Regions from separate parts of the Homo sapiens genome. Here all the other regions are linked to region 1. The links come from fine-mapping of genetic effects on gene expression. A gene starts in region 1. Each other region holds a variant in brackets. All regions are shown on one strand. Distances are from middle to middle.

Region 1 (8,172 bases):
GCCATGGCCCCAGCATTTCGGAGGAGGTCCCAGTGGCCTGCCCAGTTAATGAGGCCAGGTGGCGGCCTGGCCCCTCCCAGAATAGAACCCCAAACTGACCTTTCCAGAAGGGAGGAAGAATCGCAGAGCAGTGGGAAGGGCTGGGGGGTCCCATGCACCCGAGACCCTGTGAGCCTGGGCCTCGGGTGCCAAATAAACAACAAAGCCCTCGAGAGTCGCGCGCCTCAGGAGTGGGGCTCTCGTTGCTGTCGGGCGGCGTCCAGCAGCTGTTTCTTTGGAAGGTCAGTGTTGAAGGCGTTAGGATTTGCGTCAGGAAGAACTGCTCCCACCCCCCTGTGCCAGGCCCACCTCCACCAAGGCCAGCTGGGCTGTGTTCAGACTGCCCGGCCCTCCACAAACCCCTCCGCAAACCCAGCCATTTCTTTTGAGAACATCTTTCCTCCCACAGTGAGGCAGGAGCCACATGCCTGCTTCCGTGTGGACTGTGAGCTGTGTGTTCTTACAGTTTTAAACCATCAGAAAAAGTCAAAAGAAGAATAACCCTTCGTGGCACGTCCATGGATGACGCTTCGTGGCACACAGGCCCACCCCTCGCTGGTGTGCTACCTGCAGTGCCGAAGCCAGCAGGAGGCTGCCCTGATGGAGAACGTGGCTGGAGGGGCTGCGGTGGTCGGCCCTGGGCATCCGCTTGGCAAGGCTGCTGTCTGCAGTTTCCCATCGAGCACTCGTGGAGTTGCTGCTGAGAAAGGGGTGGTGTAGATGCAATGGCCGTGACCAGCACTTGGCCGTCTGCGCTGTAGGCCAAGGAGGCCTGCCTGGGCCCACCTGGCTGCAGCGGGGAGCTGAGCCTCCCTGAGGAGGAAGGAATCGCACCTGGGGCAGCAACAGCAGCTCCTGCCTGGGTCCCTCATGGCCGCGTGAGCCGCTTCCTCACTGTAAAGCTCTTCACCTATGTAACTATGTATCAATGTAAACAGGAACGTATCCTCCGCCTCTGCATCTCTGGTGAATCCGGGCGATACGTGGTGAGACACCTTAATAAACACCTAGATAGACCCTGCCGTGGTGAGCACCTGCCTCCAAGGGGCAAGCACGGGGCATTTTCCTGGCTAGGAATTCTGTCTTTCTCACCACGAGACTCTTCATGGACTTACGTTTTGAAACAGCATGTTTGGGTTTGTTCGGATTTTAAAATTTCATTCTTCTTTGTCTTATTTCCATTTCCTGGTCTTATCTTTTTTTCTTTTGTTTTCCTCTCTTGGGGAGGTAAGAGTCAGGGAGGCAGGCAGCACCCTCACCCGTGTGCCTGCAACATGGTTGAGACGCTTCTCTCCTGCCGGGACTGGAAAGGTGGGCCCTGTGGTCAGCCGGTGCCGCAGCCAACCCTGCAGTCCAGAAAGCAGACGCTTTGCTGATGAACAGTGAGCAGAGGGCCGGGGGCCCAGGGCCCGGGGCAGTGACCTCTGGTGGCAGGGCAAGTGCTGACATCCCCGGGCTGCCGGGCACACGGCCGCCGGCTCACCTGCTGAATGCCACCCAGAGGCCTGCGTGATCCTCCAGGGGGGCAGCTCCTCATCCTGCCACACAGCGCCCGGAGACTTCTGGAACACACAACCGCAAGTGGGGTCTAACCTGCAACTGGAAGAGCACGTGACTGTCTGTGCCTCGGTTTCCCCATCCCACAGGCGTGCCGCCCAGGCCACCATGTGGGACTGTTCAGGAGACAGTGCCCGGTCCCCAGCACCACCCTGGAGATGAGACCTGAAGCAGGTGCCCTCCAAGGGCAGCTCCAGGGAGGGGCTCGCAGAGCAGCGGGGGAGGGGCCCTGGGGGGCAGCTGTGAGTGAGCAGGAGACACCCGGTGCCCCCACCCCTCACAAGGCCGAGCCCCACAGACTCTGCCCAAGGGCAGCTCTGGAACACGTGGCAGTGCCAGCTCCCCCTGGCTCTCTCTCCTTCACCTAGGTTATCACTAGGTGTGGAATGGGGGGGGAGGGGCAGCCCTCCCGGGTCCTGACCACCACGTGCGGGGGCAGCAGGACATTCGCAAGCCAGTGGACCTGTCTGCCTCAAGTGCCGGACCCCAGGGCCCCCACAGCACCTGGTAGCCTTCTGTGTGTCCTACCCGGATACCAGCGGCCTCCAGGGCTTTCCCTTGGACAACCTTTCCCTTTGGAGCCTGTGGGGGCCCAGCCCAGGGCCCAAAACCAGCTAGGACTGAGGTGGGCAGTGGGAGCTTCTCTGGGGCCTCCCAGAGCCTGGCTGGCTCCACCACCTCCCTCTGCCCCCACAGCACCTTCGAGAAGTTCCCCCGCAAAGTCCCCGTGGGACTCAGGGCAGGGCTCCAGTCCGTGTGCAGGGAAAGAGACAAGCCAGGGCCACTCCCCCCACCGGCCGGGGCCTCCTCTGGGCCCCAACTGTGATGTGCCAGGAGCCTCCCGGGAGACACAGGCTGACCTGTGCTCAGTGTGGTACCCTCACCTGGAGCAGTCTCTGTGGTGGGAGCCGCTGGGTGCAGGAGTAAGACGTCAGGGCAGAGCCCATGGGGACCCCCGGCCTGGGGACGTCTGGGGCAGAATCCTCCCCTTGCTGCCCGCTTCTTCCCAGCCCTCTTGTCCAGGACCATCACCCAGGGGACACCAGGGGGGGCTCCGAGGCTCCAAGGGAACGGTGTCCAGGGAGTCAGGGCGGCCAGGTCCTGGGGTGCCTAGAGCGTCTCCAGCTGGGAACTAGACCGTCGCCTGCCTGGACCCTGTGTCCCTCAGCTGGAGTTCAGGGACCAGCACAGTGTCCCCACAGAGGGGCTCTGGGAACACCAGCTAGATGGGGCAGTGGGGCCCTGAGCACATCCCGCTCAAAAGCCCCATAATGAGAGGCCGGGGAAGCGGAACGCTGTCACCCCTGCATCTAATTCTGCCTCTGTGAGTCTTCATGACAACCTCCCAATAGTACATCCTTCAGGCCCCTCAAAATCCATGGCAGCAGGGCCTGGGGACCCCCTGAACAGGCGCCAGTGTCACAGAACCTGGGGCAGAAGTAGCCATGCAAGGGTGGAGGCCAAGGAGGGAACAGGTGGAGGGGTGTGGGGTCACCCAGGGCCAAAGGGGGAACAGGTGGAGGGGTGTGGGGTCACCCAGGGCCAAAGGGGGAACAGGTGGAGGGGTGTGGAGTCCCCCAGGGCAGTTCCTGAGACTCTTGCTGAGGCTGCCACCAGGCCAGCACGTGCCCCAGAAAACGGAGTTTGTGACGAAAACTGGAGTGGACTTGGACCCACCTTGTCGGGTAGGAGGCCCCTTGGGGCAGGATAGGGACCTGTGGGATGTGTGCAGAGCCCAAACCTCGCTGCGGGTGGGAGGCTGGGCTGCGCCGCCCCTGGCACCCTGGCCTCCACACTCGCCTTGGCTCTGGATGCCCAGCTCTGTGGCCCAGGATGCAGGAGGGTTGGGGTAGGGGGACAGGGACGCTTTCTGCACAGCCACAGGCCCTGTCTGTCTACACCGGCTGCGGCTGCCCTGCTGACTCACACTCAGACGGGTTCACGACAGGTGCACCTCGGTTCTGGCATATCTGGACTTGAGAATGTTAAATAAAGGATGGAAAATTCCTTCCAAATCCATTTTCTTGTGTATATTTCTGTTCCTGCAGCTTCTCCACGGATGGAGATTGTCTTTGGGAATAACACAGGGTCGTGCAGTCCGCCCGGCGGCGTTTTCGGGCGAGGGTCTGGTGCTGGGGAGCGAGCGCGGAGCGAGGTGTCTCTTTAAATACGCTCTGCAGTGTGACGGCGGCCGCCCGGCTGGAAGAGCCATCCCCACCCTGCGGCAGGAGCCCGCCCGCCGCCATCGCCCGCCCCGGTCCCCATGGTTACGCGCCTGCCTCCGGCCCCGGGTCCCCGCTGTCGCCGCGGGAGGTGCGCGCAGAGGCGGCGGCGCTGCTGGCCGGGCTGGGCCGCTCGTGCGCGGGGCTGTGACTCACCGGCCGGCGCCGCAGCCCCGCAATCTGTTGATAACTCGGTCCCAGCTCGGCCGCTGCCCTCGCGAATGGAGAGCGGGTCCCCGGCGGGGGGAGCGCAGCGCGTCTGTCTCCGGGAGCGCGGCCCGGCCGCCCCGGCAGCCGCTTCGGCCACAGCAGGTGGGAAGGACGCGCGGGTCTGGGCGGCGGGAGGGACGCGCGGGGCCGCGGCTCGGCAGAAAAGCTCGCGCCCCGAGGTGACACTGGCCGCGAGGAAAGCAGCTCCGAGTAACTTTCGGCTCCGCTGGGGCGGGAGGCGCCACGGATAATCCAGGGCCCCCGCCCCGCGCGCCCGGCCCGGAGCTCGAGCCACATCCAGGCAGAGCAGGCGCCGCGGCCGGGCTGGGGCGGGCGGGTCACTCGGTGCCGGTTCCCGGTGCAAACCCCCCGGCGCGCCTCTGGCTTTGTGCAGCCCGAGATGGTTGAGTTTGGCTCCGGAGCCGGGAGTGGGGCGCAGATTGATTTTTAAATATGGAGAAGGAGACGCATCTGCCGCTGGCGCGTTCGGTCCGAGCCCCCCACCGGTCCCCACCGGCACCGCCTCCGCCAGCCCCAGGCGCAGCCCCCAGGCCGCCCGCGGAGGGGAGGGAGCGACAGGGGCCGCGGCTGCTCCCTGGCGGGGTCGGGGCTGCGAGCTGCCCTCCGCGGGGACCCTCCGCCCGCCCCGCTGACCGCCGCTGTCTTCACAGATGGGAGCAGCTCCCGGACTGCGCCCGCCCCGCCGCGGTCACCCTGAGGCCAGGGGCCCGGGAGCGCGACCTCCTGGCCGCCGTCTGGGACTTTGACCTTCCAGAGGCCATGGAGGCTGGCGGGGAGCAGGGCGCCACCTGATCGCCTCCCCCTGGACGCCTCCTCCAGCGGCGCTCACGCTTCCGCAACTTTGCAGCGCTCATGGTGAGTACGGGGGTCCCGGGGGTCCTGCAGCTGGGGGCTAGGCCGCTGCGGGGGGGCGGCCACCCGTATGGGGACTCCCAGGCTGGAAAAGTTGTGGAATGGCGAGCTGGTGACCGGGCTTCCGGGCTCAGTGCCGGGGTGGGAGGCTCTGTGGAGTGGGGGCCGGGGACAGGCCGCGTGTCTGGGCACCTCTGCTCCCCGCGTGCTGGGTGCTGATCATACTAATGAGTTGCAGGCATATGGCAATGTGGAATCATTTAATCAATGGAGGCGACGTCCCTCCCGCAAAGCTGGCATCCGTGCCCTGTGAAAACCTGGTCTGTGCCTGGGCTGGGGTCCCTGCCACCCCAAGCCCCTCCACCCTGGTCACCGGCCTCCTCCACGCCACCCTGCCGGCCCCTTCCCATTAGAAAGTTGATGAAAGGCAGTGCGGACAGACGTAGGTGGGCTTCAGCAGTGGAGGCTGTGGCGGAGAGAAGGCGGCCGCGCACACGGCAGGCACGGGAAGGGTGTTTCAGCGGGAAGGGGCTCGTGGCTGGCAGCTGGCTGGATCGGCTAGCCGAGCCCATCGTGGGTCCCTCCCTGAGGCACCAGCAAGCTTTTGCTGCAGTTGCTGAATGTCTGGGTTCCGGAAGGGCTGACAGCTGAGTGAACAATGCATTGTGTGTGCTGGTAAGGGACAGCTGACAGGCGGTGAGGACCCAGGGCACGTGCAGAGAATGCCAATGGCCTCTAGAATGTGCGGCCGCCACAGACGCCGGCTGGCGTGCTTCGGAGCAGACCCAGTGTTCGCTGCATAAGGAGCCATCGGTCTGAGTCACTTGCTCATTTTCTTCTTGTTCCGTTCGAAATGTCCAAGCAAGAGAGATGCCTTTGCCAACATTCAGTATCGTCTTCCAGTGGCTGCTTCACCTCTGAGGCTGGCTGAGGTCTCCGCACTTACCTTTCAGACACCTGACAAGGTTGCGTCTCCAGCACCAGCAGCACCTCAGGGGGCAGCAGGCCAGCCCCAGGGCTCCTGCCTGCCCCCAGGCTCCCACCAGCCTCAGGAACCATCGCTGTTGCCCCGCAGGTACCACACCCAGCGCAGCCCCAGGCCTCCCAGTTGGCAGGATCTGTGGCTTTTCAGCCTCAAATTGAGACCCTTATTTGCAAAATGGAAAACTGTCATTGACAGAGGACAGTGAACGGAGAAGGGCTTCTGAAGGTGGGGGTGCTGCCGCAGCCCGGGGGTCCCTCTCATCCCCTTCCTCGCCTCCTCCTCTCTAACCCTTGGCCCTTCTGCGAACAACTGTGCGGGGGCCTCCCCAATCCAAGAAGGGCACCACCCCTCGCAGGCTGAGCCTGTTCGTGCACTCTCCTCTCAGCTCCTGGCTCCTGGTGGAGCTTCCTGCTACCACCTCCTCGGCCCGGGGCCACCCGGTCCCAGCCGGCCTGGCAGCCCAGAGCTCCTGCTCACCCAAGACTGTGAAAGCCTGCTGAGCTCGATCTGCCTGGAGAGTGTGGCATTTCAGCAGCTCACTGTTTTTATTCACAACAAGTAACATTTGCACCTGAGAAAATCTCTGAAAGTGTGAGGAGTTGCCCTCCCGTGCTGCATCAGTCTGGTGCAGCATTTTTCTGCATGTGTCTCCAAGTTCACAGCGTAGTGTGACAGCGTAATTCACAGCACGTGTCTCCAAGTTCACAGCGTAGATACCTGGGCAGGCTCACCCCATGGCCATGGGGTCTTGAGAAGGAAGCCTGGAGGCCGTGGCCAGGGCAGGGTGGCCCTGACTCTGCCTGCCCCACTGCTGTGCTCTGGGGGGCTCCTGACGCCTGCCAGGGGCAAGCTGCCTGCTGAGCTCCCAAGTGTAAGGGCATAGGGCACAGGTCACAGGTCAGATTCTTTGGTGGCATCGCTCCTGGCCAGGCACAAAGGCATGAGTCAGCCCTGGATTCTGAGCTGCTGTCCAGCAGCTTGGCTGGGCCAGGCCGTCCTCTCAAAAGGCTGGTTTGTCGGCCCATGGTGCTCTACAGGATGGACAGTTTGCTCCCCTCTGGAGGACCTGCAGGCCACCTGTCCAGTGGTTAAAGCTGGGGCACCTCCTTCTGCAAGCTGTGTCTCCGTCACCACTGTTAACGAGCAAAAGCAAATGTGAACTTGCCTGTCTCCGCAAGGGGTGCTATCAGGACTTACGTTCCAGCAGGCTCCGAAATGAAATAGGTGTCACTTCGCACCCTGTAACTTGCAGTCCTCACACTTAACTCAGAGAACAGTTGTTCTCGAGGGCCTGAATTTGAGGCTGAAAAGCCACAGATCCTGCCAACTGGGAGGCCTGGGGCTGCGCTGGGTGTGGCACCTATGGGGAAACACCTGCAGGGTTGGATGGTGTGGCTGGTGCAGTGTGGTTGCCGTGGGATGGGCGGTGTGGCTGGTGCAGTGTGGTTGCCGTGGGATGGGCGGTGTGGCTGGTGCAGTGTGGTTGCTGTGGGATATGGTGTGGTGTGAAGATGTCGTCTGGCCCTCTGTGGCTACTTTCATTCCACAATTGCAATATTTAGGTGCAGCTGGGAGCATGAGCTCATCGTCCCTTCAGGGTTCAGGCCCTGTGCCGATGGCACCATTGCCTGGTTAGCATCTGTGTTTCTATGTGGTCATCTGTGAGCTGCCAGCTTTCTGTGAGTAGGGTGGAGGCTCTCAAAGGGGACTCAACCGAGCCCCTTCCAGCTCTCAATTCAGGGCTGACTCTTGGTCATCAGAGGCGCTGTTTGCTGCACCCTGCATGTTCTCAATGCCGGGATTGAGTGCGAGGACAAGCTTGGGCTGGGGGACCCCAGAGACCTGGTGTGTGTAGGGAGCTCCTTGGGTCTAACACTTCCTTCCCCAGCTTCTGAAAGGACAGAGTGCCTTCGAAACCTCCAAGGAGACGAGGCGGGTAGCCAAAGGGTGAAGACCTCCAACCGGAGGGTGACAGGCCCAAGGTCAAGGCCAGCCTCCTGGCGGTGCCCCCAGGAAGGGGAGTCTCGGAGGCCGAGAGTGAGGAGGAGCCTGCAGCTGCTCCCCGAGGCCGGACCCATGTGAAGTCCGCCCTGAAGAGAACCAGGATCGGGTCCTGGCCCAAAGGCAGGTTGTGGGAGACTCGGAGCTCTGAGTTGTTAGGAAGTACGTGAGCCCACATGAGGTGGGTTTATCTCTGCTCAAATTTTACCCCTTGGCCTCTGCCAGGAATGGGCATTCAGGAGGTGGGAGGGGCCCGGGACGCAGGGCCTCTCACAGGGCGTAAGG
Region 2 (8,172 bases), 43 kb after region 1:
TCATGGGTCCGGGTGGGGGCTGGAGGCGGTGAGCAAGTGCACCCGGTCCGGGACACGCTGCATCCCGCTTGGATCCCTGGGCGCCCTCAGCACCGTTGCCAGGCCCTGCAGAGGGGAAGGTCAGCCCCTGCCCTGGGCTCGGGCTGTGCCTGTCAGGATGAGACTCTGCCCCTCCAAGGCGGGGTTCCTCGGTCTGACAGGGAGCAGATACTTCGGCCCTCCGACCTTCTTCCCCTGAGGCTGAGCGGGGCCTTAAAACTGTTTAAAACGGGGCACTGCTGGTCACTGGCCACGCACTACCCGCGGGGAGGGGCCATGACCTGGGGACCCGGTGGGACGCACAGCTCCCTGTGTGACCCCACGCTGCCCCGGGGAGCAGTCCCGCCTGTAGCCAGGGGCTCCCTGCAGTTGCAGAGAAGTCCGCAGCCAACGGAGCTCTCCCGGGGCCCACCCGTGAAAGGACCTGGTCAGGGCCCTCTCCAGGCGCAGAGGCCCGCGGGAGGCCAGCGAGGCCGGCACTGGCTGCTCGGTCAGTGGTCGGGGGTCGGGGGTCGGGGGTCGGGGTTCTTGGTCTCCTCCTGCTCCGCCCGCACCCGCTGCTCTCCCTTGCCCCGCGGAGTGGGGGAGGGACAGCGCTGACCCCGGAGGATGCAGGCGGCGTCTGCAAGGGGGTCAACGCCTTCCTCCCCGGCAGGTTTTACCTCGTCAGCGGAGGGGTCCCCTTTATCATCTGTGGGGTCACGGCTGCCACGAACATCAGGAATTACGGGACAGAGGACGAGGACACGGCGTAGTGAGTACCGGGCACCCAGAACCGGGAGCTGGGAGCAGCGGGTGGGCTCTGCCTGAGGTCCCTCCCAGGCACCTGTGGTGGGGAAGCCCAGGACGAAGCAGCAAGGCCTGGGCCTGGACCTGGGGCTTGCCGAGAGCTGCGCCCCTCCCAGCTCGCACCCCCGAGGAGTGCGCAGCGCCCCCTCCTCTCCCAGGGAGTCCAACCTAATCTTTGCCTTTGGACAAGGCAGGCCTGGTTTGCCTTCTATGGGAGGGGCCTGGGGACAAATAGCGATTTGGCAACAGCACAGAGCTCAGCTGAGAAGGGAAACCCCATCGAGTAGGAACGGCGGTCCAGCCATCAGTGCCCAGAGCCAGCCTGGAACCTCTCATTCAGGGCCCTCAGTTCCTTCTGCGGCCCCAGGATGGCCCGCCCGTCTGCCCTCCGCCTTGCCCCGCCCACCCAGCTCCACCTCCGCCTGGCCCCGCCCACCCAGCTCCACCTCCGCCTGGCCCCGCCCACCCAGCTCCACCTCCGCCTGGCCCCGCCCACCCAGCTCCACCTCCGCCTGGCCCCGCCCACCCCACGCTGGCCACGCCCACCAGGCTCCACCCTCTGCCTGGCCCCTCCCATCCAGCTCTGCCCTCTGCTCAGCCCCGCCCACCCCACTTCACCTCTTCCTGGCCCCACCCACCCCACACCAGCCCCACCCACCCAGCTCTGTCCTTCCTGCCCCTGCCCACCCAGACCCGCCCTGCACCTGGCCCCCTGCCTGGCTCTGCCTCTACCCGCACCTGGGACACTTTCCTGGCTACCCCACCTCCCAAGCTGGTAGGGCCAATAGGGCCCGGTTCCCATCCACACTCTCAGCGACTCTAGAAACGCCCAAGGCCCCCAAGCCGCAGCTGTGCAAAGCCACTCGCTAGGCCGGGTGGGTGCAGGGCCCTTTGCTCTGCAGGGGGCGTCCTGAGTCCTGGCCGTGCTGGCCCCGCTGACACTGACGTGCGTCTCCCCACAGCTGCTGGATGGCCTGGGAGCCCAGCCTGGGCGCCTTCTACGGCCCAGCCGCCATCATCACCCTGGTCACCTGTGTGTACTTCCTGGGCACCTACGTGCAGCTGCGGCGCCACCCAGGGCGCAGGTACGAGCTGCGCACACAGCCCGAGGAGCAGCGGCGGCTGGCGACACCCGAGGGCGGCCGTGGGATCCGGCCAGGCACCCCACCCGCACACGATGCCCCCGGCGCCTCCGTGCTGCAGAACGAGCACTCATTCCAGGCACAGCTGCGCGCCGCCGCCTTCACGCTGTTCCTGTTCACGGCCACGTGGGCCTTCGGGGCGCTGGCGGTGTCACAGGGCCACTTCCTGGACATGGTCTTCAGCTGCCTGTACGGCGCCTTCTGCGTGACCCTGGGACTCTTCGTGCTCATCCACCACTGCGCCAAGCGTGAGGACGTGTGGCAGTGCTGGTGGGCATGCTGCCCGCCCCGCAAGGACGCCCACCCCGCACTTGACGCCAACGGGGCCGCGCTGGGCCGCGCCGCCTGCCTGCACTCGCCGGGACTGGGCCAGCCACGGGGCTTCGCGCACCCACCGGGCCCCTGCAAGATGACCAACCTGCAGGCCGCGCAGGGCCACGCCAGTTGCCTGTCACCGGCCACCCCGTGCTGCGCCAAGATGCACTGCGAGCCACTGACGGCGGACGAGGCGCACGTGCACCTGCAGGAGGAGGGCGCCTTCGGGCACGACCCCCACCTGCACGGGTGCCTTCAGGGCAGAACTAAGCCGCCCTACTTTAGCCGGCACCCAGCAGAGGAGCCCGAGTACGCCTACCACATCCCATCCAGCCTGGATGGCAGCCCCCGCAGCTCGCGCACAGACAGCCCCCCCAGCTCTCTGGATGGCCCGGCGGGGACACACACGCTGGCCTGCTGCACCCAGGGCGACCCCTTCCCCATGGTCACCCAGCCCGAGGGCAGTGATGGGAGCCCTGCCCTCTACAGCTGCCCCACGCAGCCGGGCAGGGAGGCAGCGCTCGGGCCCGGCCACTTGGAGATGCTGCGGAGGACACAGTCCCTGCCCTTTGGTGGCCCCAGCCAGAACGGGCTGCCCAAGGGTAAATTGCTAGAAGGCCTGCCGTTTGGCACCGACGGGACCGGCAACATCCGAACGGGACCCTGGAAAAACGAAACTACTGTGTAGATGGGGGCAGAGGACACGGTGTTCCTGGAGGAGCTTCAGAGCAGAGTGGGGGGCCCATCTGCCACATGAGGTCACTGGGGGTACCGAAGTGACCCCGCCTTTCAGAAGCCGTTCACACCCCTGCCCCTTCCTTGTGATCACACCCCTGCCCCTTCCTTGTGATCACACCCCTGCCCCTTCCTTGTGATCACACCCCTGCCCCTTCCTTGTGAAAGACCTCAGCGGGGAAACGCTCCGGGCCACGCCCACTCCCCTTATCCCAATTCCGCGTGCTGGTCCCGCACACGGTCATCCGGTTTCTGTCCTGTG[G/A]TCTCCAGTCCTGGGGCACCCTAGAGGCAGAGCAGGGGATTCCATCAAAGGACCCACTGAGACCCCAGCATGGCCCTGCCCGAGATGCCCTGCTGCCCACGGAGTCCTGGCTTCCCCTGGTGTGGCCGGGCAGGGCCGAGATCGCAGGAGGGGGCTGCCCTGACCTTTCCCAGTGTTCAATGTGTGTGTCTTGCGTTCTACTCCGGGGGTGGCGGCGGCAGGTCTGTCCCCAGCATTCTCGCTCTGGGCAGAACCCTCGGGACCCTCCGCTGTCGTGTGTCTGAGCCACCCCTGCAGCTTCACAGGGCCCCTGCACACCTCTGCCCACTCAGTGTGCCCTGTCAGCCCTGTCCTTGTCGTAGCCCCAGCCCTGCAGGGCTGAGAGCACCACAGATGCTGGGGGCTGCTCTGGACTTTGGGGATGGCTGTCAGCCTCAGAGGGCCAATGGGGGGCTTTCACGGGCCCAAGGCTTGGGAAAATGCCCAGACATCCTTTAGTGAAGACTCGACTTCCAAAACCAGCCACCGCTGGGACTGGATTCCACTCCAGTATAGGCACTTAGCAACACGAAGGTTTATTCCAAAAAGAAAAGGGGCTGACAGACGGGAGATTCTCATGGACAAAATCCCTTTCCCTTTTTCTCGTCTCCATGAACATCTGGGTACCAAGCCCTGACTCAAAGGACAGATGTGGATGACAGCAAGACTTCTGTGAAAGCAAGTGGCCCGTCCCTAGGTGGGAGGGAGTCCAGAGGGTCATGGGTGTGAAACTGTGCACAGCTTTCCCTCCCTCCCTCTTCCTCCTTGTCTGTGACACATGTGCACCCACACACACACACACAAACACATGTGCATATCACACACATGCACACACACAAACACATGTGCATATCACACACGCGCACACACCCAAACACGTGCATATCACACACATGCACACACACAAACACGTGCATATCACACACATGCACACAAACGTGCATATCACACACACGCACACACACCCAAACACGTGCATATCACACACACGCACACACACAAACACGTGCATATCACACACAAACACACGTGCACACATACTTAACACACACTTGCACCTGCTGTGCACATGTGCACACACACGTAGTAGTGTGTTTTCCAGCCACCCACACACTGGGTTTGCATTGGAGATTGTTTCACCCTGCAAACGTCAACGTCAGCAGACTCGTCGGTGCGCTGTGCTATCCGGTTGGGAGGTCTCACCAGGAGCAGAGCCTCCCTAACGTGCACCTCCGAGAAGAGGGGTGTCGGGGAGTGTTCCCAGCACCTGCTCGGTGGAAGGGCTCTCCGGAGACTGGCACTCAGTATCTGAGTATGAGGAGCCTCACTTCCCGGGGTGTCGGTAAACTTGACCGTGACTCAGTAACCCACAGCGTGCTCCTCCCAGCAAACCCCGTGTGTCCTTACAGGTCGACCAGACGGGCCGTCGGAGGACCACCAGGTGGCTCTGCCTCTGCCTCACCTTCTCACCTGCTTCCATAGCTGATGTGAACCCGAATCCCCACGCTGTGCTGTGTACGCACTGTAGGTGCAGAACCGTCCACACAAAAATACAGTCTTGGCATTGTTTGTTCTTTGTGAGGCTGGTTAATAGCATCCCCGTGTGTTTTTCTCACCCTCGATGGGGTAGAGGGGCACCTGAATGTGTGGCCCCCGTCTGTGTCCTGGATCCTGGGGCAGGGCTGCTCTCCCTGGCCCCTGCAGCCCCTCATGAACTTTCCACCCTCAGTGCCCCCGGCTGAGCAGAGAGGCGTCCCACCATTCAACCAAAGAAAGTCAACATTGAACATTAAACCTCTGTGTGTTTCTATACTGACTTAGCCTCATGAGTCCACTTGGGACTGGTGTTGGGCCATATCCAATTGCACGTAACGTTTTGGAGCATAAACATCCACAGCCCAACCACCCTGAGGGGCTCCTGGCTCGGAGTCAGCTTCCACCAGACCATGAAGCCAGAGCCAGACCCTGCGTTCCGCACCTGACTTTCGTGCCACTTCCTTCCTTGTGTGTGCCCGTGTGTCTGCATGTCGGATGCAACGGAGCGTGGGTGCATGCCAGCCTGTGTGAGTGTGCTTGCCTGTGTGCCTCCGTGTCAGACGTGCTGGAGCGTGGGTGCATGCCGGCCTGTGCGAGTGTGCCCCTGTGCCTGCGTGTTGGATGCAATGGAGCGTGGGTGCATGCCGGCCTGTGTGAGTGTGCTTGCCCGTGTGCCTGCGTGTCAGACGCACTGGAGCGTGGGTGTATGCCGGCCTGTGCGAGTGTGCCCGTGTGCCTGCGTGTCGGATGCAATGGAGCGTGCGTGCATGCCGGCCTGTGTGAGCGTGCTTGCCCGTGTGCCTGTGTGTCGGATGCAATGGAGTGTGCGTGCATGCTGGCCTGTGCGAGTGTGCCTGTGTGCCTGTGTGTGTGTGAGTCCGTGTGCCTGCGTGTCGGATGCGATGGAGTGTGCGTGTATGCTGGCCTGTGTGAGTGTGCTTGCCTGTGTGCCTGTGTGTTTGTGAGTGGCTTGTGGGTTGTGTGGGTGTTGACGTGTTAGTGTGTGAGAGTGTGCGCCTGTGTGGTGTGTAGGTCCCTCTGTGGGAGTTGTGTGCACACATGCACGTGTGCTTGAGGGTAAGTGTGCATGTGTGTGCATGCTCTTTGGAGGAACACTGTGAGGCGGCCCCTCCGCCCTGTCTCCGTGCGGGTGTGTAACTACCACACGGCAACACTGTGGTGACTTTAGTCAGCTTAAAGGACTAGGAAGCAGAAGCTGCCTGTGCCTCCAGACCCTGACAGTTCTTCTCTGGAGCAGTCCTAGCTGAGGAGGCCTCCAGTCCTGGGAGACACACAGTGGCATCTGCCGCGTCGCCCACGAAGGCCCCAGACAGGGCTCAGATCTGGTCGGCCTGCTCTGTCTCTGAATGAGCCACCCCTGCAGGGGCTTTGGGCAGCTGAGGAGCCCCCACTGGTTCTGCGGGGAAGGGGCTGGGTTGGGGCCCGCACGTTCCACCTGCCTGAGCAGGACTGAGGAGGGATGCAGGCTGAATGGGAGCACTGGGCCCCTGGGAGGGCCTTGGCAGAAGGCAGCTCAGCAGCCACACGCTAGGCTGCAGTGTCGCCCATCAGTGACAGCAGCTGCAGGAAGCCTGTCTAGGGACCCTGGAAGGAGCTCAGGGCCCTGCACTGATGTGGTGAATGCCCCCCATGTGCAGAGACTGGCTGCAACGGGCACTTCCACACCTACCCAGTGCCCAGATGGTGCCTGACCGGTCCTGCCACTTGCTCCCTGACCCTTGGTGCTTGCATTTCTCGGGGGACGCTGTCGGGACCAGCATTGGCCTGAGCTGGAACAGTGGGTGTGTTCACTGTGCGGGGACTGTGGACCCTGCTCCTCCACGTCTCACGTGGACCCTGCTCCTCCGTGTCTCACGTGGACCCTGCTCCTCCGTGTCTCACGTGGACCCTGCTCCTCCGTGTCTCACGTGGATCCTGCTCCTCTGTGTCTCACTTCATCACGCTTCCCTTCCACTGCACTGCCAGGGTTTGTACCTGAGCCTAGAGGCTTCTGCAGAGCCTTTACTGCACAGGCACCTTCGGCCAGAAATTCTGCCTGTTGTATTCAAGACCAAGGACTGTTCTGTAGCCTTTGAGGTGGGTGGGGTGGGGGTACCTTGGGCAGATGGAGGCCGGCCCTGTGTCTGCAGGGGCAGCGTGTGCCCAGGGAGGCAGGGGACGGGGTAGGGGGAGGGAAAGGGTGAGCACCCCGTGAGGACAGACAAAGTGCTGTGAGGCCAGGTCAACGGTGGGGTGGAGGCGGGGCCTGGTGGGCATCTGGGGAGGCTACTGGGCACAGGGACAGAGAAGCCAATTCGGAGGGTCCCTGGGGCCAAGTCTGAGCAGGCATCTGAGTGCTGTGGTTGTTCAGGGCAGGCGGAGCAGGAGGGGCATAGGAGGGCCTGGCACACGTGAGAGGCCTGTCCCTCGGGCCACAGCTAGAAGATCAGTGTCTCCCAGTGAGACAGGTCAGGCTGCAAGTGGGCTCAGCAGCAAGACAAGCCCTTCATGCCCGCCGTGCTGGCTCCTCTGGGCCTGGAGGGAGGGCTGCTGGGTGAGCTGGGGCCCACCAGGGCAACTCCCAACACTGGCTGTCCAGGCCTCCTGGGGGCTGCAGGGCCAGTGCCTGAGCACAGACGTGGCTGCCCACAGACGGTCCTGCAAGGACTCAGGACCCCAGACCCCAGGCTGCATCCCCCCGGCCACAGATCTGCAGGCGGCCGACTTCCAGAGGACAAGCAGCACCGCTCAGGCCCAAGTGGGCGCCGACTTGGACCTCACACCTCTGTCCTGTGTCCCAGGAAATGACTGGGGTTGCCAGGGCCTGCCTTTCCTTCCCACTCCCATCCCAGGACGTGGGTACTGGGAAAACCACTGTTAAGAGGACACTCTTAAACTCACTCTAATTACTTCTTTTCTACATAAATATCAACAACTTCCCCTGTAATCGCAACAGACACCTTGCTCCCTACTCACAACTCCAACCACACCCAACATAGCCCTTCAGGGAGGCCTGCAGGTCAGAACCGGCAGCAGAGGCACCCAGAGCTCAAGTCCCTCCCTGCCAGCCGCCCCCCAGCCTCTCCCAGACAGGGTCACTGAACAAGCCACAGAGTGGTGCAGGGCTGACATCGGCCAGGGACAAAGCAGGTGAGTACCCATGTCTGCGCCCTGGCTCAGAGATTACTCCAAGTCCAGGTCCTAGAGGGGTGAATACCCCTGGTGTGGGATTGGCTGGTTTAGTACTCATGTCTCTGTCATGGTCCAGAAAGTACCCTTGGTCTAGGTCCTAGTGGAGTGAGTACCCTGGTGAGG
Region 3 (8,172 bases), 23 kb after region 1:
GGGCACCAGCCATGAGATGCTGGCTTCCCCGCATCGGGGGTACGGCAGCAGACACCCATCCCAGATCCTGTCGAGGTGAGGCCTGGGCGAGTGGATGGACGTCACACAGAGTGTGCAGCATGCTTCCTGGGGGAAGGCCATCGAGGCCAAAGACCCTCACAGATAAAGCGGAAGGTCATGTCTCTGCACACAGTCTCACCCCCGCGGCTCAGAGTGCCCATCGCGGGCTCCTGGGCAGTGTTTATCTGGGGCCACGCCCGCTCTGAGCGCCACTGGAGTCACGATTGCATCTGAAGGCCACGTTAAGAAGCGTCACCGTTTCAACAGCACCACGTCTTCCAATTCGTGAGCACAGGACGTCTTTCCTTTTATTTAGCTCTTTAATTTCTTCCAGCAAAGCGTTGCTGTCTCCAGTGTACACATCTTGCACCTCCTTGGTTGAATTTTTTTCCCAGGGATTTTATTCTTTTGATGTTATTATAAATGGGGTTCTTTTCTTAACTTTCCTTTCAGATTGCTTATTTGTTTGTGAACAAAACACAACCGATTTCTGTGTGCCAACCTTGTGTCCGGCAGCTTTGCTGAGTTCCTTTATTGGCTCTAGTTGGTGTTTTGTTAATTCTTTAGTATTTCCTGTATATATAATTATCACGCCATCTGTACATAAGGATAATTCTACTTCTTCCCTTCCAGTCTGGAGGGCTTTATTTCTTTTTCTTGCCTAATTGTGCTGGCTACAACTTCCAATACAAAATGAGTCTCTCTTTTTTTTCTTTGTCGGTCTAGCTAAAGGTTTGCCAATTTTCTTGATCTGTTTAAAGAGCCAGTTTGAGTTTCATTGATGGTCTTTATTTTTCTGTTGTCTATTTTATTTGTCTCAGCTCTGGTCTTTATTACTTCCTTTCTTCTGTTAGCATTGGATTTAGCTTGCTCTTCTCTTTTCAGGTTTCTTGTGGTATAAAATCAGATGGTTGACTTGAGCTCATTTTTCTTATGTGGATGTTCACAGCTATGAATTTTCCTCTGAGTGCTGCTTTTCCTGCATCCCTGAGCTGTCTCGTGGGTTTTTTTGTTTCATTTATCTCCACATAGTCATTTCTGCTTTTCCTTGTGATTTCTTCTCTGGCCCATTGGTTGTTTTAAAATATGCTGTTTAATTCTCACAGATCTCTAGATAGTCAGGGAAAAAACCACCCTGTCTAAAATTGTGCTGCAACTTTTAGTGTCAAGCTGAATGAAGGGAGTCCCCACTTGATCAATGCAGTGTGGTTTTGGGTGGCTTGTCTCTGCAAGGAGATCTTCATTACAATGATGAAAAACATTTTTTCATTTCTTTTCTGTGATTTGGGTACAGCAGAGGGGTGTGAGGGAGTGGGTGACCCTGCACATCCTGCTGTGTGGCCTGCCCTGGCCAGCCCAGCCTTCTTCCCTTTCTCCACATGTGAGGAGTGGAGTGGATGTGGGCACGAGGGGCCAGGGAGTGCCTCAAGGTTAGGCCTGGACCAGGCATCACACAGACCTCCCCGAGCACACCTGGGAGTGTGCAGGACCTGCTGCCCTGCTGGTGTCTTCAGTGCAGGCATGGTTGTAGGTTGTGTGTGAATCTGGTCCCTGGCCCCAGAGCTCTGCCTCGGGGCCTCCTGTGGGTGAGAAACCACACAGAACCTGGCGTGAGCCTTTGGCCAACAGAAGTGTCACCCTCAGCCTTGTAGGGGAGAGTTTAGGAGAAGGACAGGTGCAGCCTCAACCGAGGAGTCCATGGACTCTTGGCACTGCTAAATGGGGCTAGGGTGACTCCGTGGAGAAGGAAGCAGGGAGGGACACCAGAAGGGAAGGAGGAAGAGGATTGGCAGGGAGGAGACAGAGGTGTTGGACACAGGACCCCCCAGGCCCACAGAGGCACCGGCTCAGCCACCCAACCCCTCACAGTGGTGCCTCCTTGGATTCAGGCACCCTCACCTTTGACCAACATGGTGGCCACTGTCACCTCCCAATACTCTCAAGATTCTAGACACTAGACTCTGTTGCAAGACTCTGTTGCCAGTCCACAAAACACCATTTGCAGTCTGCCCACCAGTCCTGACCACTACACACATTTGCCGCAGCCTCCTGATGCCTCCCTCAGATATCCCAAGACAGCTCAATACTGGGTGCATGTGGCCCCAGCTCCACCCCTCCCCTCACATCCTCCATGGTCCCAGCTCCACTCGGCCCCAGCTCCACCCCTCCCCTCATGTCCTCCATGGTCCCAGCTCCACTTGGCCCCAGCTCCACCCCTCCCCTCATGTCCTCCATGGTCCCAGCTCCACTCGGCCCCAGCTCCACCCGTCCCCTCATGTCCTCCACGGTCCCAGCTCCACTTAGCCCCAGCTCCACCCGTCCATCAGTCCCACAAAGGAACCAGCTCCACTTGGCCCCAGCTCCACCCCTCCCCTCATGTCCTCCATGGCCCCGGCCCCACCCCTGCCCCTCATATCCTCCATGGAACCAGCTCCACCCCCACAATGTCTTTGCAGCTCAGCAGCAGCACTGCTCTCCCAGCATTCGTGTCTGGGTGCTAGACATTTTGCCAAACTCTCTACCCCCTTTCCCAGATCAGGCCACACCTCCAGGCCCAGGAGTCTTCCCCACCTTTCCTGTCCCTCCTCCTCTCCCAGCCCCCGCTCCCTGGACCTCATCTTTCCTGCTCTGTGGACTGCCCTGACCCCAGCGGGCCTCCAGGTCCCTTTCTCAGCCTCCTGCTCTGCCACCTCCACACCACCTGGATACTTTTTCTCCCCAGCTGGAAGCCTGACTGCTTGCCCCCACGACCACTCCCCAGACCCCCCATTGCTGCTCAGCTGTGGCTCAGAGCCTTCCTGTCTGCCCCTTCCTGGCCTCACCTGCCCTTTGAGCACTGAGGGTCGGTCCCTCCAGTGGGATGGTTACCTCCCGTCTCCATTCCAGCCTCCTCCCTGCACCTCAGCTTCCTCTTAAGTGAGACCCCGACCTTCTGCCCGGTGCCCACCTCCTATTGCAGAGCAACTGTCCCCTGACCTCTCCTCCCCTCGATGACAATGACGGGAAGGTCCCTCCTGGTTCATATTCTCCAGGCTTGGCATCCAGCCCCTCCTGATTAAATGTTGAAACCAGAAAGAGACAAACGGCAGGGATGTAGTAAATATGTGTGAAATCGGCCTCCAGGCTCAGCTGGGCTGGATGTGTCGATGGAAAGCAATCAGTTTCATACTTTGTTCTGAGGCTTGGGTGAGCAGCACACTGCCCGTCATGCAGTGTCAGGCCCCACGGCCTCTGCACACTCAGGGCGGGGCTGGAAGGACTCGGGACTCAGCAGTGGTGGCATTCCTGGGTGTGGTTTGTCTCCACAGAAAGATACACTCAGGGAGGGGCTGGAAGATACACTCAGGACTCAGCAGCGGCGGCGTTCCTGGGTGTGGTTTGTCTCCACAGAAGGATACACCACAGGGCCAACGAGGGAAAAGACATCCAGCAGGGTCCAAGACTCCAGGTGCCGTCTCCAAAGTTCTCCTGTCCTGGGAGACGGCAGGTGGGGAGGATCCACACGGAACCTGCTCCTTCCTCCAGCAGCAAAATGCAGCAAAGTGTGCCCCGCACTTCTGCCCAGGAGGCCGCTCAGGCTCAAGCTCCGCATTCTTGCTGGGACAGGTCACTCCTGTGTGCTCTGCCAGCTCCGCTGGCCACAGCTACGGAGCCTCACACTCTGGCGGGAAGGCAGGTGCTGCCGTCAGTCATAAGGTTCATGCAAACAGCCCAGGCTGCTGTAGTGCCACATCCTGCGTCCCTGCACACAGAGCAGCCTTATCAGGCAGT[G/GA]CGTGGGGAATGTGCTGAAAGCCACTGACCCAGGCACCTGCCACGCCCCAGAGCTGGCCCTTCTGCAGAGCAACACTGAGCTGCACAGGGTCGAATGTTCAGAGAGAAGCTCCTTGGATCTGCCATTTCTAACTATATGAGTGAGAAGAAAGAAAGCCTGAGAGAGAGAGAGTCGGTAAGAAATATAAAGAAATACTGGAAGAAAAAGAATAAGGGCAAATATTATGCACCCTGAGCTGACCCTTTGTACACAAAACAAAAGCCAGTGGTCTGATGCCCATGTCTGAACAATTAGCCTGCTTCCTCTATACCCATATCTCACAATCCAGATTTATTTTCCGGAATTCTGTTTTGACCTCTATTCAGCCTCTTCCCCTTCCTTGTCTTTAGTTTCCTGCCCAATCCCTTTGCCGCAGAGTGATGTCTGCATGGGGCCCTGGACACAGGTGCTGCTGGATAATTCAGTGATCCCAGGTCCCCAAGCACCTGCTCCAATGTGAGCACAGCCCACTGAAGGGTTGTTTCTGAATCTGTTAAGTGGAAATGTGGCTGAACTGGGGAGGTTCTGGGTAGGCTGGGCCACCTGCCCACCAGGGACACCTGCCCTCCTAATCCTGCCAAGCCACCTGCCTGCCATGGGCAGCTCCCCTCCTAATCCTGCTGGCCACCTGCCCGCCAGGGGTGCCTCCTCTCCTAATCCCACCAGACCACCTGCCCGCCGTGAGCACCTCCCTCCTAATCCCTCCAGACAACCTGCCCACCACAGGCACCTCCCTCCTAATCCCACCAGACAACCTGCCCACCACAGGCACCTCCCTCCTAATCCCACCAGACAACCTGCCCCCCCGGGAACCATCCCTCCTAATCCCACCAGACCACCTGCCCACCACAGGCACCTCCCTCCTAATCCCACCAGACAACCTGCCCACCACGGACACCTCCCTCCTAATCCCACCAGACAACCTGCCCACCACGGACACCTCCCTCCTAATCCCACCAGACAACCTGCCCACCACGGACACCTCCCTCCTAATCCCACCAGACAACCTGCCCACCACAGACACCTCCCTCCTAATCCCACCAGACAACCTGCCCACCACGGACACCTCCCTCCTAATCCCACCAGACAACCTGCCCACCACGGACACCTCCCTCCTAATCCCACCAGACAACCTGCCCACCACGGACACCTCCCTCCTAATCCCACCAGACAACCTGCCCCCCCGGGAACCATCCCTCCTAATCCCACCAGACCACCTGCCCGCCACGGGCACCTCCCTCCTAATCCCACCAGACAACCTGCCCGCCACAGACACCTCCCTCCTAATCCCTCCAGACCACCTGCCCACCACAGGCACCTCCCTCCTAATCCCACCAGACCACCTGCCCACCACGGGCACCTCCCTCCTAATCCCTCCAGACCACCTGCCCACCACAGACACCTCCCTCCTAATGCCTCCAGACCACCTGCCCGCCGTGAGCACCTCCCTCCTAATCCCTCCAGACCACCTGCCCACCACAGGCACCTCCCTCCTAATGCCTCCAGACCACCTGCCCACCACAGACACCTCCCTCCTAATGCCTCCAGACCACCTGCCTGCCATGGGCATCTCCCTCCTAATCCTGCTGGCCAGCCCACTTTGAGGAAGGGCCTCTAAGTAGACAGAACTTTCCACATTTTCTGCTCCCTTTGCCAGCCAAAAGGAAGACACTCCAGAAACAAGCAGACCTTTTGTGATTTCATAGGTGCTCGGGGGCTGATTCCCCATTTAGCCATGAATAATGACATCTTAATTTTGCAGTACGGCCACCCTTTCTGATCAAGTGCACCAAGCTGTGTCAGTTATTTGGGGTCTGCGGGCCGCATCGGTTATCTGGGGTCTGCAGGCTGCGTCAGTTATTTGGGGTCTGCGGGCCGTGTCGGTTATTTGGGGTCTACGGGCCGCGTCCGTTATTTGGGGTCTGCGGGCCATGTCGGTTATTTGGGGTCTACGGGCCACGTCAGTTATTTGGGGTCTGCGGGCCGCGTCGGTTATTTGGGGTCTGTAAGCAGTGTTGGTTATTTGGGGTCTGCAGGCCGCGTCGGTTATTTGAGGTCTGTGGGCCGCATCGGTTATTTGAGGTCTGCGGGCCGTGTCGGTTATTTGGAGTCTACGGGCTACGTCGGTTATTTGGGGTCTACGGGCCGCGTCCGTTATTTGGGGTCTGTGGGCCATGTCGGTTATTTGGGGTCTACGGGCCACGTCAGTTATTTGGGGTCTGCGGGCCGCGTCGGTTATTTGAGGTCTGCGGGCCGCGTCGGTTATTTGGGGTCTGTAAGCTATGTCGGTTATTTGGGGTCTGCGGGCCGTGTTGGTTCGGTTATTTGGGGTCTGTAAGCTGTGTTGGTTATTGGAGGTCTGCGGGCCACGTCGGTTATTTGGGGTCTGCGGGCCGCGTCAGTTCGGTTATTTGGGGTCTGTAAGCTGTGTCGGTTATTTGAGGTCTGCGGGCTGTGTCGGTTATTTGGGGTCTGCGGGCCGCGTCAGTTATTTGGGGTCTATAAGCTGTGTCAGTTATTTGGGGTCTGCGGGCCGCGTCAGTTATTTGGGGTCTATAAGCTGTGTCAGTTATTTGGGGTCTGCGGGCCGTGTCGGTTCGGTTATTTGGGGTCTGTAAGCTGTGTCGGTTATTTGAGGTCTGTGGGCCACGTCGGTTATTTGAGGTCTGTAAGCCGCGTCGGTTATTTGAGGTCTGTAAGCCGCGTCGGTTATTTGAGGTCTGCGGGCCGCGTCAGTTATTTGAGGTCTGTAAGCTGTGTCAGTTATTTGGGGTCTGTGGGCCGTGTTTCGGTTTGGAAGTCCAATGGCACCGCGGCACTTAGATTCCGTGTCACGGCCCGGCTTGCCGAGGATGCCTGCTCCCGCCTTCACCTGCCTCGCAGCCTCCCCAGTGCTGGCCAGGCGCTGAGGGATGCTTGACCCCACCCCATGGATGAGTGATTTCCTGGGGCTCCTTCAGCTGGGAACCCTCTCTAGGCCACAGGGCAAACTCTGGAGACTGCCTTGGGCTTGGGACCTGCCCGTGGCCACGCACTGGGCCTGGCTTGGACCCCACTGGGCTGGGGCCCTCGGGCACTGGGGCCCTGGGAATGGCCAGTAGGAGGTGTCCACTCCCTCCTGTTCCATCTGGAATGCGTGCCTGAGGCCAGTCCTCAGGATGAGCTGCCTAAGGGCGGGCAGAGGTCACAGGCGAGCAAGCGACCTGGCGCCTGCCACTTCCAAGAATGTGGGTTCACTGGGAGAGGGCAAGGATGGGGGTGGGTGGGAGGGAGCCGAGGGAGCTTTGTGCGGGGAAAACCCTGGAAGGGAGCAGCTCTGAGATCTGTGAAGCAGCCTCCCGCCCCTTCCCCATGTCCCTGTGGACCCTCGGACGTCAGGCCAGGAAGGGCCTGGGCCTCCCACTTGGCCCTCTAGCCCAGCCGTGAGCTTTACAGATGGGGAAACCAAGGGCCCACAGGCACGGGGACTTACCCAGAGCCCTGGCCTGGCCACCAGGACCTGGCATCTCACACTTTGGCGGTCCCCTGACTCTAGACACCATGAGTACCTCCGTCTCCTGCCCGGTCCTGTTGTCTACTGACAGCAGCGCTGGCTGAGGAAGGGAGGAGGTGCCACGTGGTACAACCCCTTCTCCACCCCTGGGAACAGCACCAAGCCCAGTGCCCGCACACTTAGCTCCCCTGAGCAGGAGCAGAGGGCACTGGAGCTTCAAGGGCAGAGCGGGACACACCGCCACTGATGCCTGGGTCCAGGGATGGTACCTCGAGGCCACATGTGGCCTGACGTCCTGGGACACAGACCTCGCCCTGGAACATAGGTGCTCTTCACAGCACAAGTGATCCTGCAGACCCATCCTTGGGCACCCACTGCAAGCGGACCAGAGCGGCGGTGCTATGGCATTCAAAGCATCTTGTCAGTCACGAAGCGTCCTCAGCTCATGTCTGGAGCTGGGCATTGTGGTGCCGTCTGCAGGGTACAGCTGGTGCCCAGGACAGTGGCCCTGTCCTTCTCCACCTGACTCCTGTCTCGCCAGCCTACCTTCCTCCCGACACCCGCGGCGTCCTCCTGCATCCACCCTCAGAGGTTATCGAATGCCGAGGAGCCCAGGATGCACTTCCGAGGCTCACTGGTGACTTTCCGGAGATACTTAGGCAAATGGACATAAATAGCTCTTGGATCCTAGCAGGAATTCTCAACCTCATTTCTCGGAATTCAGAAGTCACGGTTAACTCAAAGAATGCTAAGCGGGCCAGGGATCACGATCTCACAGATGGGTCCCGTGTCCCAGGGCAGTGAAGGT

Alleles and levels. Alleles are on the strand shown, and positions count from the first base shown. SD is a standard deviation of normalised expression in the study named.
As copies of A replace G in region 2, the expression in fetal neocortex of the gene that starts at base 3,916 in region 1 goes down (large effect, 0.95 SD a copy in Walker 2019).
For the expression in spleen of the gene that starts at base 3,916 in region 1, GA is the high allele of the variant in region 3 and G is the other (large effect, 1.5 SD a copy in GTEx).

The links.
Region 2: its variant is fine-mapped to the expression of ADGRA1 in fetal neocortex (Walker 2019, PIP 0.95).
Region 3: its variant is fine-mapped to the expression of ADGRA1 in spleen (GTEx, PIP above 0.99).

Annotation. Positions count from the first base shown.
Region 1 is chr10:133,084,009-133,092,180 of GRCh38, forward strand. ADGRA1 (adhesion G protein-coupled receptor A1) reads left to right here and starts at 3,916. Exons shown (of 7, transcript NM_001083909.3): 1 at 3,916-4,130; 2 at 4,700-4,904. The coding sequence starts at 4,902. It overlaps ADGRA1-AS1 (ADGRA1 antisense RNA 1), which reads right to left and starts at 2,689. Exons shown (of 3, transcript NR_111905.1): 1 at 2,481-2,689; 2 at 1,523-1,638; 3 at 1,236-1,385. RefSeq lists an enhancer at 5,070-5,832.
Region 2 is chr10:133,126,539-133,134,710 of GRCh38, forward strand. It overlaps ADGRA1 (adhesion G protein-coupled receptor A1), which reads left to right. Exons shown (of 7, transcript NM_001083909.3): 6 at 695-793; 7 at 1,791-5,137. The coding sequence ends at 2,973. Among named protein-coding and RNA genes, the nearest start is that of KNDC1, 30 kb to the right of the region's middle. RefSeq lists enhancers at 274-985, 986-1,698. The variant G/A (reference allele first, on the strand shown) is at 3,283.
Region 3 is chr10:133,106,624-133,114,795 of GRCh38, forward strand. The region is part of intron 5 of ADGRA1 (adhesion G protein-coupled receptor A1); the gene reads left to right. Among named protein-coding and RNA genes, the nearest start is that of ADGRA1, 23 kb to the left of the region's middle. The variant G/GA (reference allele first, on the strand shown) is at 3,832.